Regions from separate parts of the Homo sapiens genome. Here region 1 is linked to region 2. The links come from fine-mapping of genetic effects on gene expression. Tissue or cell type: skeletal muscle. Region 2 holds a variant in brackets; the other region holds the start of a gene. All regions are shown on one strand. Distances are from middle to middle.

The links. PIP is the estimated chance that this variant, and not a neighbour inherited with it, causes the effect.
Region 1: CERCAM starts here. The variant in region 2 is fine-mapped to the expression of CERCAM in skeletal muscle (GTEx, PIP 0.95).

Annotation. Positions count from the first base shown.
Region 1 is chr9:128,415,929-128,423,928 of GRCh38, forward strand. CERCAM (cerebral endothelial cell adhesion molecule) reads left to right here and starts at 4,929. Exons shown (of 13, transcript NM_016174.5): 1 at 4,929-5,146; 2 at 6,940-7,050; 3 at 7,218-7,335. The coding sequence starts at 4,950. RefSeq lists a silencer at 4,315-5,214 and an enhancer at 5,475-5,664.
Region 2 is chr9:128,263,079-128,271,293 of GRCh38, forward strand. It overlaps GOLGA2 (golgin A2), which reads right to left. Exons shown (of 27, transcript NM_001366244.2): 4 at 5,342-5,446; 5 at 5,039-5,082; 6 at 4,856-4,919; 7 at 4,380-4,439; 8 at 4,116-4,196; 9 at 3,209-3,247; 10 at 2,892-2,942; 11 at 2,710-2,803; 12 at 2,507-2,613; 13 at 1-14. Among named protein-coding and RNA genes, the nearest start is that of GOLGA2, 8.8 kb to the right of the region's middle. The variant A/C (reference allele first, on the strand shown) is at 4,825.

The DNA of each region.
Region 1 (8,000 bases), 150 kb after region 2:
ACGCCACTGCACTCCAGCCTGGGTGACAGAGCGAGACTCCGTCTCAAAAAAAAAAAAAAAAAAAAAAAAGACAGGGGAATTACAAAGGAGAAAGAGTAATTCACACAGAGCCGGCTGTGCGGGAGACCGGAGTTTTATTATTACTTAAATCGGTTCTCCCCAGTCATGTGGGGATCAGAGTTCTTAAATATAATTTGGCAGGTAGGGGCTTGGAAAGTGGAAAATGCTGATTGGTCAGATTGGAGATGGAATCATAGGAGGTGGAAGTTAGGTATTCTTAATGTCTTCTGTTCCTGGGTGCGATGGTAGAACTGGTTGGGCCAGATTACTGGTCTGGCTGGTGTCAGCTGATCCATCGGGTGCAGGGTCTGCAGAATATCTCAAGCACTGACTTTAGGTTTTACAATAGTGATGTTACCCCAGGAGCAATTTGGGGAGGACCCAAAGGCTGCATGACCCCTAAATTGTAATTTCTAATCTTATAGCTACTTTGCCAGTCCTGCAAAGGCAGACTGGACCCCAGGCAAGAAGAAGGGTCTTTTTGGGAAAGGGCTGTTATAAATTTTGTTTCAGAGTCAAACCATGAACTGAATTCCTTCCCAAAGTTAGTTCAGCCTACGCCCAGGAGTGAACAAGGACAGCTTAAGGGTTAGAAGCAAGACAGAATCAGTTAGGTCTGATTTGTTCCGCTGTCATAATTTCCTGAGTTACAAATTTGCAAAGGCGGTTTCACAGGGGCCGTTCTGTTGAGGAGGGGTGTGCCTCCTGAGGCTGGCTGAGGGCAGAGGTGGAAGGTTTGGAGGCTAGAAATGAGAGTTCCCAGGTAATGGCTTCTATTTTCTCCAAAAAGTAGTAGAGAGATCTTTGCTGGGGGAGAGGGGCGGTGGAATGGGGGCTTGAGAAGACTGGAGGCTTTGTTTTGTTTTGTTTTGTTTTGTTTTGTTGAGACAGAATCTCACTCTGTCACCCAGGCTGTAGTGCAGTGGCGTGATCTCAGGTCACTGCAACTCCCACCTCCTAGGTTCAAGTGATTCTTCTGCCTCAGAATCCCAAGTGGCTGGGGCTACAGGCATGTGCCACCACACCTGGCTAATTTTTTTTTGTATTATTACTATTTTTTTTTTTTTGAGACGGAGTTTCGCCTTTGTTGCCCAGGCTGGAATGCAATGGCGCGATCTCGGCTCACTGCAACCTCTGCCCCCCTGGGTTCAAGTGATTCTCCTGCCTCAGCCTCCTGAGTAGCTGGGATTACAGACACACGCCACCATGCCCAGCTAATTTTGTGTTTTTAGTACAGACGGGGTTTCTTCATGTTGGTCAGGCTGGTCTTGAGCTGCCGACCTCAGGTGATCCACTTGCCTCAGCCTCCCAAAGTGCTGGGATTACAGGTGTGAGCCACTGCCCCGGCCTTTTTTTGTATTTTTAATAGAGACAGGGTTTCACTGTGTTTCCTAGGCTGGTCTCGAACTCCTGGCCTCAAGTGATCTGCCCACCTCAGCCTCCCGAAGTCCTGGGATTACAGGCATGAGCCACCGTGCCTCAATGACTAGAAGCATTTGAAATGCCCTGAGGGGAGTGGGCAGGGGACACAGGGAAACAGGATTCTTGGGCTGGGTGAGAGCCCAAGTGAGGGTAGAGACCCTGAGTTTGCAGTTGCCCCAACCTGCCCCAAAACAAGATGGCTATTGGGTTTTCCAGGCAGGTGTGATGGGAAAACTCTGAGGCAAGAAAGTTAGTAACAGGCTGGACTCCTGGGGAGGGTGGGAGGACTTGGGGGAAGAGGAGGACTTGAGGCCAGGGAAGAATCAGGAAGCCCCCTGTCTTAGTCCGTTTGGGCTGCTATAACAACATATCTTAGACTGCATAATGTATAAACAACAGAAATTTATCAGCCGGGTGCAGTGGCTCACACCTGTAATCCCAGCATTTTGGGAGGCTGAGGCAGCTGGATCACCTGAGGTCAGGAATTCGAGACCAGCCTGACCAACGTAGTGAAAACCCATCTCTACTAAAAATACAAAAAATTAGCCAAGCATAGTGGTGTGTGGCTGTAATCCCAGCTACTCAGGAGACTGAAGCAGGAGAATTGCTTGAACCACCCCCCAACCCCTGGCCAAAAAAAAAAAAGAAATTTATTGCTAATAGTTCTGGGGGGTTGGGAGGTCCAAGGTCAAGGCGTCAGCAGATTTGGTGTCTGGTAAGGGCCCGTTCCTCATACCTGGGGCCTTCTAGCTGTGTCTTCATGTGGCAGAAGGGGTTGACAAGCTCCCCAGGCCTCTTTTTTCTTTTTGAGACGGAGTCTCGCTCTGTTGCCAGGCTAGAGTACAGTGGCATGATCTTGGCTCACTGCAACCTCTGCCTCCTGGGTTCAAGCGATTCTCTTGCCTCAGCCTCCTGAGTAGCTGGGACTACAGGCACGCGACACCACACCCAGCTGATTTTTGTATTTTTAGTAAAGATGGGGTTTCACTATGTTGGCCAGGATGGTCTTGATCTCTTGACCTCATGATCCACCCCCCTCAGCCTCCCAAAGTGTTGGGATTACAGGCGTGAGCCACCGCATCCGGCCCCCAGGCCTCTTTTATAAGGGCACTAGCCGCATTCAGGTGGGGCAGCCCACCCAATCAACTCCCAAAGGCCCCGCCTGTTTTTTTTTTTGTTTTTTGTTTTTTGTTTTTTTTTTTTTGAGACAGAAGTCTCGCTCCGTCGCCCAGGCTGGAGTGCAGTGGCGCGATCTCGGCTCGCTACAAGCTCCGCCTCCTGGGTTCACGCCATTCTCCTGCCTCAGCCTCCTGAGTAGCTGGGACTACAGGCGCCCGCCACCACGCCCGGCTATTTTTTTCTATTTTTTAGTAGAGACAGGGTTTCGCCGTGTTAGCCAGGATGGTCTTGATCTCCTGACCTCGTGATCCGCCCGCCTCCGCCTCCCAAAGTGCTGGGATTACAAGCGCGAGCCACCGCGCCGTGCCGGCCCCGCTTCTTAATACCCTGACATTAACATTAGGTTTTCAACATGTGAGTTTTGAGGGTCACGGACATTCTGACCATAGCACCCTTGGACCAATAGGACAGGCAGAGGCTGTGGAATGACTCTGGGGTGGGTGAAGTAGGGAACACTGCTTTGCTTTAGAAAGGGAATCCCTCTTCTGGGGCTGGGAGTGGCTTCCCGCAGGGGACTACCGTGCAAGGGAGAAGAAATCTGGCATCTCTCCAGAATGCTTCTCATTGCAGGGCCGCTGGCCTAGAAATGGCCTCAAATGGAAGCTGCCACCCGATCCTGGTGGAGGCTTTGAGCTAGGCTAGAGATCAGGACTCCAGGGTTCAGTGCGCACGTGCTGCCCCTGCACTAGGTAAGTTCCTTCCTCTATGGACCTTCAGCCCTCCCCTTGCAGTGGAGATAGTGTGCACAGCCCTGGCTCCCCTCCCTGACCCTGGGAAAAGGCTGAAGGGAGACCCCGTGCTGTTCCTAGGAAAGGAGATCTTCCCAGCGGTGGGAGGGTGAAGGGGGAGCCTCCCTCTCCTCCAGTCCTGTCTTCCCAGCCCCAGGGCGGAGCTCTTCCTGTGTGTAAGCCTCCACGCGGGAAAAGCTGCCAGTGCATTCATTCTCTCGAGGAATCCCTGCAAACCCTCCCAGATGGGTGGCGTTATCAGCCCGATTTTACCCGAGAGGCTCCTGAGGGAAAGGGACCTGTCTGAGGTTGGTGACAGACACCCAGTTCGATCCCATCTGTGGTGCCGCCAGGCCGCTCCCTTTTCTGCTCCTCTCCCGAGAGGCTGCAGAGTTCTTTCCCTCCCAGCAGGGTCCTAAGGACCCCGGCGGTGCTCCAGGGGAGCCAACATCCCCTGCTTTGGAGGACGGACGGGTCGGGTCGCAGTGAGCAGCTCCGTGGTGTCCCCTAGTTCTACACTCAGACCAAGAGAGGGCTGTGAGGGCTGTGCTCTTTTTTTTTTTTTCTTTTTGAGACGGAGTCTCGGTCTGTCATCCAGGCTGTAGTGCAGTGGCGCGATCTCGGCTCACTGCAACCTCCGCCTCCCGGGTTCAAGCGATTCTCCTGCCTCAGCCTCCCAAGTAGCTGGGAGTACAGGCACCCGCCACGACGCCCGGCTAATTTTTGTATTTTTAGTACAGATGGGATTTCACCATCTTGGCCAGGCTGGTCTTGAACTGATCTCAGGTGATCCTCCCGCCTCGGTCTCCCAAAGTGCCGGGATTACAGGCGTGAGCTACCACGCCCGGCCTGGCTGTGCTCTCTTAAAGGGCCGAAGCAATGCGGGTGCTGGCGACCGACGCAAGGAGGTGACGCACAGGGGACTTAAGGAGCGGACCGCCGCGGGAGGACGCGCCCAGCTCAGGGGGACTCCCTCTGCGCCCCCCACGCTGGGTCTCCGGCCCACGCGTGGCCCGGCTGGTCTGCGGAGCTAGCGCCAGGGCCGCCAGAGGGCGCCCGGGGCGGAGGATGGGGCGGGAGCCGGGGAAGCCCGGGAGGTGGTGGCCGAGTGGGCGCCGCCCCTCTGGGTCTGCGGCTCAGGTCGAAGAGTCGGCTGCGTGGGCCGGGGAATCCGGATTCCGGGGGTTCAACGCCCAGGGGTTCCATGAGCCCCTACTGTTCTCGGACGCCCGGCCGGCCCCGACGCACTCGTCCTAGCACCCCTCCCCTGTCCGGTCCTCCGGCCCCTCCGCCGTCGCCCCTCCGGGGTCCAGCCGGGCGGGGCTGCTCCAGGGTCGCGGCTGGCGCGGGTCCCCGGGCCCTGGCCCTCCGGTGCCCCGGGCCAAGGAGAGAAAACTTGAGCATCCACGCACAGGGGTGGGGAGCAGGATCCCACTCTGAGGGTGCACTGCCCCGCCCTCTCCGGGTCTGCCTCGGCCCCGCCCGGGCCCCAGGCCCCGCCCCCTCCCCTCGGCCGGCCCGAGAGCTCCGGGGGCCGCTGCAGCCGCCCAAGCGCCCGCCATGCGCGCTGCCCGCGCCGCGCCGCTGCTCCAGCTGCTGCTCCTGCTGGGGCCGTGGCTGGAGGCTGCGGGCGTTGCGGAGTCGCCGCTGCCCGCCGTGGTCCTTGCCATCCTGGCCCGCAATGCCGAACACTCGCTGCCCCACTACCTGGGCGCTCTGGAGCGGCTGGACTACCCCCGGGCCAGGATGGCCCTCTGGTGAGAGACCCGGGCATTGGCACCGAGTGGGCACCTAACCCCCAGCTTCGCAGATGGCCCCCGCCCCCGGCGGCCCTGTCTGCTCGCTCCCTGCCCAGACACCACCTAGACAGGCCCCTCCCCTCACAGACGGCCCTGCCAGCCCGAGCCGCCAGAGAGGACCCCGAGCCCCCTGCTGGGAGACGACAGACCTCTGAGGCCACAGGCCGACGCGGGACACCCACCCCTCCTTCTGGTCCCCTACTCCTTCCTCTTGGGGCCTTCCCTGGGTGTAGGTTGGGCCCAGCCAGCCCTTTTCACCCCAGCCTTCAGGGCCCAGCTCAACCCCAGTGGGACCTGTGGTTGGCTGGATTTGAAGAGGAGCAGACAGGAACCTCTGAAGTCCACTGGGGCCCAACGTGGCAGGGATCGACCACGCTGGAGGCTTCCGGGCACAGGTTGGGGGTGCCATCAGCACTGGGCTCCGGGCTGTGCAGGGGAGTCAGACCGGCCCCCCCACCGCCCCCGTGCTGGGGCCAGCTCTCTTGGTAGATCTTGGTAGAGGGGCGGGATCCTGTCAGCCAAGGGCAGTCCCCCTTCCTGGAGCCTCTCCCCTCTGGCATCTCTGTACCCCCAGGGCACTGGGATCGAAGGCCACAACCCCTGGTCTGTAGACACCAGAACAGGGAGGAGTCCCTGGCTGAGGTTGGGGGTAAACTGAGAAAAATGACAAGCCACCCTCTTCAACACACCACAGTTGGGCTGGGGGGGTGGAGCCCTGGCCTGGGGAGGCCGCCCACAATTACCACAGTTTGGGAGTTTGTTAGTTCCCACCCCTGTAAGACTTGACACGTAGTCTTCATTTCTGGGGAATTGGCTTAAAGGGGCAGCATCACCCAAAACCTGGGCACTTGGCTAAACCCCCACCTCTGTTATGGGGGCCCCTTCCCCAGGAGAGGGGAGGCTGTGCCCCATGACAGCAGAGCTTGGACCCATCTGCATTCTTAGGGACGCTTAGAGCATGGTTTGGTCCTTATTACAACCTGGGGGTGGAGGAAAGCAGCAGCTCTTCTGTCTAGTCCCCATTCAGAGAGGGACAGGGGCTGGCCTGTGGTCACACAGCCACAGGTCACATAGGTAGGTATCTGCCCACCTAACGAAGGTAACCAGGGAATGCACCAGGTGTGATCCTTAAAGTCGAGGTACTTTTCATCTTTCAAAATGCATTCGTTGGCCAGGTGTGGTGGCTCACGCCTGTAATTTCAGCACTTTGGGAGGCCGAAGTGGGCAGATCACCTGAGGTGAGGAGTTCAAGACCAGCCTGGCTAACATGGTGAAACCCCATCTCTACTAAACAAACAAAAATTAGCCGGGCATGGTGGTGCACACCTGTAATCCCAGGTACTCAGGAGGCTGAGGCAGGAGAATCACTTGAACCCGGGAGGCGGAGGTTGCAGTGAGTCGAGATCATACCACTGCACTACAGCCTGGGCGACAGAGCAAGATTCCATCTCAAAAAAAATGCATTATTCTTCTCTTATCTTTGTCCATGACATAAGCAGGACAGCTTAAGTTATAGAGGGAGGACGTGAAGCCCAGAGAAAGATGGGACTTGCCTGAGGTCACACAGCAGGTCACAGAACTGTGGTGGGGACCTGGCTGTGCTGCCTCCAGCCTCTCTGCTGTAGCACACCTACCCTTCACTGTTCCAAGGAGAGCTCGACCTCAAAGGTGTTAGTGCTTTGGGGTCAAGGCTGCCTTGGGGTTCAATCCTGTGGCTGTGCCCCCTCAGCCTTTTTTCTTCCCGTCCCCAGGTGTGCCACGGACCACAATGTGGACAACACCACAGAGATGCTGCAGGAGTGGCTGGCGGCTGTGGGCGATGACTATGCTGCTGTGGTCTGGAGGCCTGAGGGCGAGCCCAGGTGGTGATCTGAGGGGAAGGGTGCTGGGGAAGATGGAGAACAGCTGCAGCCCAGAGAGGAAAAGGGACAGCCCAGAGCCACAGCCTCCAAGCCAGGGCTCTGTCCACTGCCCTGCAGAGAGGGAGGGGCATGTACCCCATGGGAACATCTCACCTCTATCCCCTCAGGTTCTACCCAGATGAAGAGGGTCCCAAGCACTGGACCAAAGAAAGGCACCAGTTTCTGATGGAGCTGAAGCAGGAAGCCCTCACCTTTGCCAGGAACTGGGGGGCCGACTATATCCTGGTGAGGAAGTCTGGCTAGAATCGGGCTTCTGAAAGGCGGTAGTATCCGTCCCTGATAGAAATCTGGGTATAGGCTGGGTGCAGTGGCTCACGCCTATAATCCTAGCACTTTGGGAGGCCAAGGCAGGTGGATCACCTGAGGTCAGAAGTTCGAGACCAGCCTGGCCAACATGGTGATACCCCATCTCTACTAAAAATACAATAATTAGCTGGGCGTGGTCGCAGGCGCCTGTAATTCCAGCTGCTTGGGAGGCTGAGGCATGAGAATGGCATGAACCTGGGAGGTAGAGGTTGCACTGAGCTGAAATCATGCCACTGCATTCCAGCCTGGGTGACAAGAGTGAAACTCAGTCTCAAAAAAAAAAAAAAAAGAAAAAGAAATCTGAATGTGACTGACCCACCCGAAGGCTGGATCCTTCGGCAGGCTATCTGGGCCAGAGCCCAGACCAGATGTTCAGATTGGATCCCTATGTTAAAAGCTCAGACTAGGTACTAAGCCTGGACCCCTCAGATAGATCCCGTTGTATACACTTTACTGAGCCTCGATTTCTGGGCTAGAGCCCAGGGTATAAATTGAGCCTGGATCTCTGAACTAGAGCTCAGAGTAGGTGTTTGGATCCATTTTCTAAGCCAGATCCCAGATAAAGGTCTTAGATCAGTAACTCA
Region 2 (8,215 bases):
AACTCCTTGTTGTACTGTAAATACAGAAAGGTTAAGTCAGGATATAGCAGGCAGAGGAGCAGCTGGCCAACCAGTAACAACAGCTACAGTAAGTACTCCACAGTAACACTTCCTCACTCTCAATCACACTTGACATGTTTTCAAGGCATTTCCAAGCCCATGGTCTCATTTTGTTGTTGCTGTTGTTGTTTTTGAGACAGAGTCTCCCTCTGTCACCCAGGCTGAAGTGCAGTGGTGAGATCTCAGCTCACAACCTCTGCCTCCCTGGTCCAAGTGACTCTCCTGCCTCAGCCTCCTGAGTAGCTGGGACTATAGGCGTGCACCACCATGTCCGGCTAATTTGTTTTGTTTTGTTTTTTCTGAGATGGAGTCTCTGTTGCCCAGGCTGGAGTGCAGTGGCGCAATTTCGGCTCACTGCAAGCTCCGCCTCCCGGGTTCATGCCATTCTCCTGCTTCAGCCTCCTAAGTAGCTGGGACTACAGGCCCCCGCCACCACACCCGGCTAATTTTTTTGTATTTTTAGTAGAGACGAGGTTTCACTGTGTTAGCAAGGATGGTCTCGATCTCCTGACCTTGTGATCCGCCCGTCTCAGCCTCCCAAAGTGCTGGGATTACAGGCGTGAGCCACCATGCCTGGCCTAATTTTTTTATTTTTAATAGAGAGGGGGTTTCAACATGTTGGCCAGGCTGGTCTTGACTCCTGACCTCAAGTGATCCGCCCGCCTCAACTTCCCAAAGTGTTGGGATTACGGCACCCGGCTGGTCTCATTTGTTTTTAAAAAAACTTGGTAAGGGTGGCCGGGTGCGGTGGCTCACGCCTGTAATCCTGGCACTTTGGGAGGCCGAGGGGGACGGATTACGAGATCAGGGGATCGAGACCATCCTGGCTAACACGGTGAAACCCCATCTCTACTAAAAAAAAAAAAAATACAAAAAATTAGCCAGGCGTGGTGGCAGGTGCCTGTAGTCCCAGCTACTCGGGAGGCTGAGGCAGGAGAATGGCATGAACCCGGGAGACAGAGCTTGCAGTGAGCCGAGATGGTGCCACTGCACTCCAGCCTGGGCAACAGAGTGAGACTCCGTCTCAAAAAAAAAGGACTTGGTAAGGGTGGAAGGAACAGGGAGAGAGAGCGAATTTATGTATGTACGTATGTATGTATATATGTATTTATTTGAGATGGAGTCTCCATCTGTCACCCAGGCTGGAGTGCAGTGGCGCCATCTTGGCTCACTGCAACCTCTGCCTCCCGGGTTCATGTGATTCTCCTGCCTCAGGCTCCTGAGTACCTAGGATTACAGGCATGCGCCATCATGCCTGGCTAATTTTTGTTATTATTTATTTATTTATTTATTTATTTATTTATTTTCAGACAGAGTCTCCCTCTGTCACCCAGGCTGGAGGGCAGTGGCACGATCTCAGCTCACCGCAACTTCCGCCCCCGGGTTCAAGCAATTCTCCTGCCTCAGCCTCCCAAGTAGCTGCAATTACAGGGGCACGCCACCACACCTGGCTAATTTTTTGCATTTTTAGTAGACACAGGGTTTTGCTATGTTGGTCAGGCTGGTCTCGAACTCCTGACCTCAGTTGACCCACCTGCCTCGGCCTCCCAAAGTGCTGGGATTACAGGCATGAGCCACCACACCTGGCCAAGATCGAATTTACAGCTGGCTAACAGAGGCCCAGAGAGATCAGATAATATTGCTATTGTTATTATCATTATTACTACCACTGTTTGAACCTTTATTGAATGCTTCACCAGGCACCATGCTAACAATCCCATTTAATCCTCATAACCACCACATGAGACAGTTACTATTATTACCTCTATTTTGTAGATGGACAACACGGAATATTAGAGGTTAAGTGCTTGCCTAAGATCACTTAGACAGAGCTCGGATTTGAACACCCAGGTATATCTGACTCTCTAAGCTCATTTGTTCCCCGAGGGTGGGGGCACAAATAGGAAGGGGGAAATTATCTTTTGTTCAGTTTTTGAAAGGATGATATATTCAGATAGTCCAAAACTCCGAAAGGGCAGAAGGGAAATATCTTCCAGCCGTGCTGTTCCTCTCTCCTGAGTTTGTTATGAATCCATGCAGACACGTTTTATGTATATTGTCATAGTACATAGGTACACATACACACACACGTTCCCTCTCTCTACACAAATGGTAACATACTAAAGATACTCTTCTGTACCTTCACAGTACAAGTACCATATTCCCCCACCTAGGACTTGACCAAGGCCACAGCCAGGTAACGGCACAGCGGGCACTTGGCCTCCGAGCTCTGCGTCCAGTGTTCACTCCCCACAGTGCCCCCAAACTCACCCACAGCAGCTGACTCAGCCCCAGGATGCCTCTAGCAACCACACACAAAAGCAGTGATAAATGGCCCATGCTGCCTTCTAGGCAGGACAGTCAACCCTGCAGAAGGGACCTTTAGGCTCACTCCTCCATCTGGGAAGCCAGTATGCCAGGGGACGGGGCAGGCAGTTGGACTCACCCTGTCTGCCTTCTTCTGCTGCGTGGAGACAGCAGAGAGAGCCCGCTCCAACTCTCCCACACGCCGCCGGGAATACTGCAGGCGGCTGGCCAGATCTTCAGACTCTCCTGGAATGAGAGAGGTTGAGATGGGGCCCAAAGGACTCCCCCTAAAGGCCTGTCAAAGTGCCAGGTTGAAGGATGATGGGGTGCCCAGATTCCCACCTTCTTTCTGCCTGGCAGCATGCTGAGTGTGAGCCAGGGCTGTCTGTAACTCAGCTTTCTCTGATACGAGGATCCCTATGGTCTGAATGTGAACCTTTGGGAGGAAACCCAAGCAAGTGCTGAAAAAGAAGGAAAGAAACATTCTCCAGAGGACAGGACGGAACTTCACACCCTCCACTCACCTGTAACTGCTCCCTTAGGGCTCCCTGCTTTTGGTGGCATTCTTTCTTTTCCTATAGGAAGAGGAAGACAGAGCTCTTACGAGGGGGAGGCAGAGACGGCACAGCAAGGGACATGCCCCCAGAATGCCACCAATGTCCCAGGACAGGCCCACCCATGGGACCAGGTTATCAGGGACCCTGTGGGGATGGGGTGGAATCTGGGGGGGTGAGCCTTCTTCCCCAGGCTGGGAGTGGGTGAGACGAGACTGAGGCCTCTACATTTGAATGCCCCCCAAACCCAGCAGTCATGTTGTGAGCAAACAAAGAAATCACGTTACTTCTTCCAACTGATCCGTAATTTCTTGGTTCTGTTGTTTCTGTGGGGAAGAGTCAAAGGAAGGTGACTGAGGGTGGCCCCCTCAACTCTATTCCCCAGACCAGGAACGGGTAGGCAGGGGCCAGGAATGGATTTTAAAGGCAAAGTTCTCAGACCCAATGGGAACACGAACTGGTAAACTCTCCTCAGGCTCTCAAGGAAAGGGGATTTGTGTCTTTGTTGGTTTTTGCCCACAGCCACAGAACTGAAAGTCTGAATCTCGATTCTCTTGAAAGGACAGTAACATAAACCTCTAGAGATGGAGTGTGAGAAAAGCCCACCCTCTGCCAGTTTGTGATTTAGAAAGGTGTAATCATTCAACAAACATTTGCTGAGCACACACAGGCCAGGTACGGTTCTTAATAGCAGGGATACCAGACAGAAAAAGACAGACAGGAGCCCTTGGCCCTGAGGTTTACATTCTAATGGGCCTTTAAATCTTGGACTCTCAGAGCTAAGAGACCTTTGATACTCTCTAACTCTACCTCCTCAGGAAATGCAAGCCCAAGGAGGAGAGGTGGCTTGTCCCAAATCAAAGAGCAAATTAAGGACTGAGTCAGGGCAGAAATACAGGGCTCCTGACAACCAGTCAGGCTAGCGCTTCCCCAAGAGGCAACAACCCCAGGGCGTGTGTGGCAAGGACTCGAGCAGGGGTGTCTAGAGAAGAGAGAGTAGGCAAAGAGGGCAGCAACAGAAGAGCCATGCTGCATGCTCCGTGCTCTGGGGTCCCTCCAGCTGAGGCCTGGGCCCCCCAGCTCCCCATTCGCCCTTGGCACCAGGGGCCCCCTGCCCCTTTCTTCAGGGTCCCAAGGGGAAACTGGAGCCCAGGATTAGCAGCATGGAATCAGGGGACCCCACTGGACTCTTACCAATTTCTCTATCGTGATATTGAGTTGTTTGTTTGTTACATAGCTGGAGTCCAGGGCTACCGCTAGCTGTTGGTACCGGCTCTGAGGCGCATGCAGAGAGGAGGAGTTGGAGGAGGATTGGGGGGAGAGGTAGAGAGAGCAATCATTAGGGTTGGGGGGTGTGTGGGCTGTCTCAGCTGGCAGAGGGGCACCCAGCCCCCGCTGTGGGAGGAGGTTGGAGGGCTGGCCTGCAGGGTCACTGGGCCACGGCCCAGGGCCTCTTACCTCCAGATCCTTCAGGTTAGCAGACGATGCAGGGCCCTCCCCATTGACACATGTCGCAGACTATAAGAGACGAGAGTGCACATGGAGATGTTCTGTCCCCTCAGTGTCTAAGCCCTCTAACTTCGTTTCTTCCCCAGCAATTGGCAACATTTTCTTTTCTAACTTGGACCCTCTGTCCCGTAACCCCTTTGTGCCAACTTCTCTCATGGTTCTTATTTCCCCACCATCCTTTCCTCCCGAGCAGCTCTCATCCAGTGCTTCTGCAGCAGGATACAATGATGCAACCAGTCATGGGGTCCAACTCCTTCATGTGCACAACTTCAAGGGAGAAGGCTCAGGGAAAAGGCGACTTCCTTAACATTGCCCAGCACATTGGCTGGTCCCAGGATCTTCCCTCTCTCTTGTGAATCCCTGCTTCAGTTTCTATCATAGTTCCCTTCCCCCC[A/C]CCCCGCTCTCGGCCTCAGTTCCTGAGGTACCTCACAAACAAGACCATTGAGCTGTTGGGAGAGTTGTCGCAGGCTCTCGGTTGATGAGAAAGTCCTAGGGATGGAGACACAGGGGTCAGGGGTGCAGGTGGCTCAATGGGAAAGAAGGTCATGGGCAGTGGCCTCCCTGACTCTCTCAGCCTAGAGACTGCTGCCCCAACAGGAGACACTCACTTGGTTTCATCCATGAGATTAGGGACATTGTCAGCATCATGATTCTGTTTGGGAAGAAACGTGTGAGATGGTCATTCAATTTCTGGTAAGAATCACCCAGGATGGGGTGAGTCAAGCTCCCAAACTCATTCTAACAATCTTCAATCTCCCCAGGCCTCAAGGAAAAAAGCCCAGTCTGAGCCTTCCCCCGGCCCGGTCCCCAGGAAGGGCCCTTGACCCTAGGGAACAAGCTGCCTGTGAAAGGAGAAGATAATGCATAATAGGTACAGGAGGGCAGTGGGCAGAGGGGGAGGAGGCACGAACCTGAGATGCCGCCATGCTAGTGAGACTGGCACCAGGGGAAGGGACACCGCCAGGTAACACGGTGTCATCAGATGGTTGTAGAGTAGCAGCATTGTCCTTGGGTGTCTGTCACAGAACAGAGCAGGGGGTTAGGGGGCCATGCGGGAGAGGTGCCTCAGTACTATGAACACAAGGGTGTGGAACAGGTAGGACAGGTGTTGCTGCAGTCAGAGTGACAGTCACACATGCTAGGAGCCACTCAGGGGTGTGGATTGGTTGCCCAGGCCTTGGGCTGCTAGGCAGCATTTCAGATGGCCAAAGCTCAAAGCAGGGGCTGCACGGCCTCCTTCATGAACACGAGGACCTCGCTCTCCCTGGAGCTCAGCAAAAGACAGCAGCAGGCTCTGACCTGTGGCAGCCACAGCAGGCAGGAGGAAGGTGTGCCAAAGTCAGGGAGGAGAAAGGCACTGTTCTTCCAGAAGGCCAGTCTGTGCTGCAGAGTGACCCTCACTGGGCCCCTACTGGGCAGAGGATGGTGATGAGGAAGTAGTTGTCTGGGCAATGCACAATGTAGCTATCTGCCTGTCTCCTCCTTTCCTCCCTTCCCTTCTCCCCTGCAGTGGCACAATCATAGTTCACTGCAGCTTCCACCTCCTGGGCTCAAGCAATGCTCCCACCTCAGCCTCCCTAGTAGCTGAGATTATAGGTGCACACTACCATGCTCAGCTAATTTCTATAGAAACATGGTCTTGCCATCTTGCCCAGGCTGGTCTCAAAGTCCTGGGCTCAAGTGATCCACCTTGGTCTCCCAAAATGTTGAGATTACAGGTGTGAGCCATTGCACTTGGCCTACTGGCTGTGTTTCTGATTCAGGCCTTTTCAGGGGGAAAAAAAAAAAGCTGCCCAACTAGAAGACTCTCTCCAACTCTCTGGAGGTAAAAAGAGGATAAACCATGGCCAACACCCCCACCCCGACCTCTTACCTCCAAAAACATCTACCCAGCCAAGAAACCACCCAAGAAAACAGAGGTAAGACATCTTCCCTGTGGCTCTTGGCAACTTGGAAGTTGTAGGGCCTCTTTCCTGGGAATAGTACCTGAGGACAATCCTAGGATTCAGAACTTGGGGTCATGTGGAGCCTCTCCCTTGCCCCCAACTGGACCTACCTGCTTGATCAGAGCCCCACCCAGCCTCTCTCCAGGCTCTGACCTTACTCTTCGCCCAAGCCTCTGGTTCTAGAGATCTTCTAATATCTGACAAGCCAGATGGGCAGACAGTGGAAAAAGCTGGCTGACCAGCTAAGCTGGACAAGAGAAAAACACCAGGGAGCCAGGGCCTGGCCACGGAAGCTGGGTCTGGGAGAAGTGACTACACCTCTCTCCAGGGAAAGGACTGCGCGCTCACTGGACCCTTCAGCCCTGGCTTCTGAAAACCCAAATCTGCTTCCCTCCTTAGAGCAAGTGCTGCAGAGGCTGGTGGAACTGAAGATGAGCCAAGCTGCCTTTGCATCTTTGCAAGTTTACTGTGACCATGGAACCTGGTGTTTCCTTGACAATGCCTACAACTGAATCTAATAGGTCAGAGCAAGGGTTCAGTTGCTGGCCAGGCATTAGCCTTGAGGGAAGGCTGGCACTCCTAGCAATGGACCCTGCTAGGCTTTAGGGCCCTCCTGGCATCTTCGGTTCCCACTGATCTCTAGGATTAGACACAAGAATGCTCAGAGGAAGGGAATTTTTTTTTTTTTTTTTTTTTGAGATGGGAGTCTCACTCTGTCGCCCAGGCTGGAGTGTAGTGGCGAGATCTCCACTCACTGCAACCTCCGCCTCCTGAGTTCGAGATTCTCCTGCTTCAGCCTCCCAAGCAGCTGGGATTATAGGTGCACGCTACCACGCCCAGCTAATTTTTGTATTTTTAGTAGAGATGGGGTTTCACCATGTTGGCCAGGCTGCTCTCGAACTCCTGACCTCAGGTGATCCACCCTCCTCAGTCTCCCAAAGTGCTGGGATTACAGGCATGAGCTACTGCACTTGGCTGAAAAAGCATTTTTCTGAGGACTTTCTGACACACATAGCATGATTATTTTGTGAGCAACCAAGTTATTTCATTATTTTAAGTCTTGTAGCCAAGATGGAGTTTTTAAAAAAGCCTACTCTCCTCAAAATGTCCCATCCCATTAAGATATTTTTTCTCTCTCCATTATTCCCTACTTCTGGAAATGTTATCAGCTCCGCTCAGGATACTACGATCACAGGCCTGCATTCCTGGAGTAGAAAACTTACATGGTAATAAAAATGAGAAATTAAAAAAAAACAAAACCTACATTGGAAACAGTTACGGATATAGAGAAGGTATAAAAACAGCAAGGGGCTGGGCATGGTGGCTCACACATGTAATCTCAGCACTTTGGGAGGCCAAGGCAGGTGAATCACTTGAGGCCAGGAGTTCGAAACCAGCCTGAGCAACATGGCAAGACCCCATCTCTATTAAAAATACAAAAAAAATGGCCGGGCGTGATGGTGCAACATCTGTAATCCCAGCTACTTGGGAGGCTGAGGCATGAAAATCACTTGAACCCGGGAGGGGGAGGTTGCAGTGAGCCAAGATCACACCACTGCACTCCAGGAGAAAGAGCAAGACTCTTTCTCAAAAACAAAAACAAAACAGCAAGAAGGAAATACGGGGATCTAGGCCTTTGTTTCCAGAATAGAGGGACCTGGGCTGGCACAGAATCTCAGAGCATTAGGAAACAGGCTGAAGACCCCCTAATCCACTGGACCATTGGCAGAGCAAAAGCCAAATGCTTTTGGCTGCAGGTCACCTCTAAGCCTGTGCTCCCCAGCCGTACCACTCAGCGTCTCCTCTGAGCTGGCAAGGTGAGTCACAGCACCTGGACAG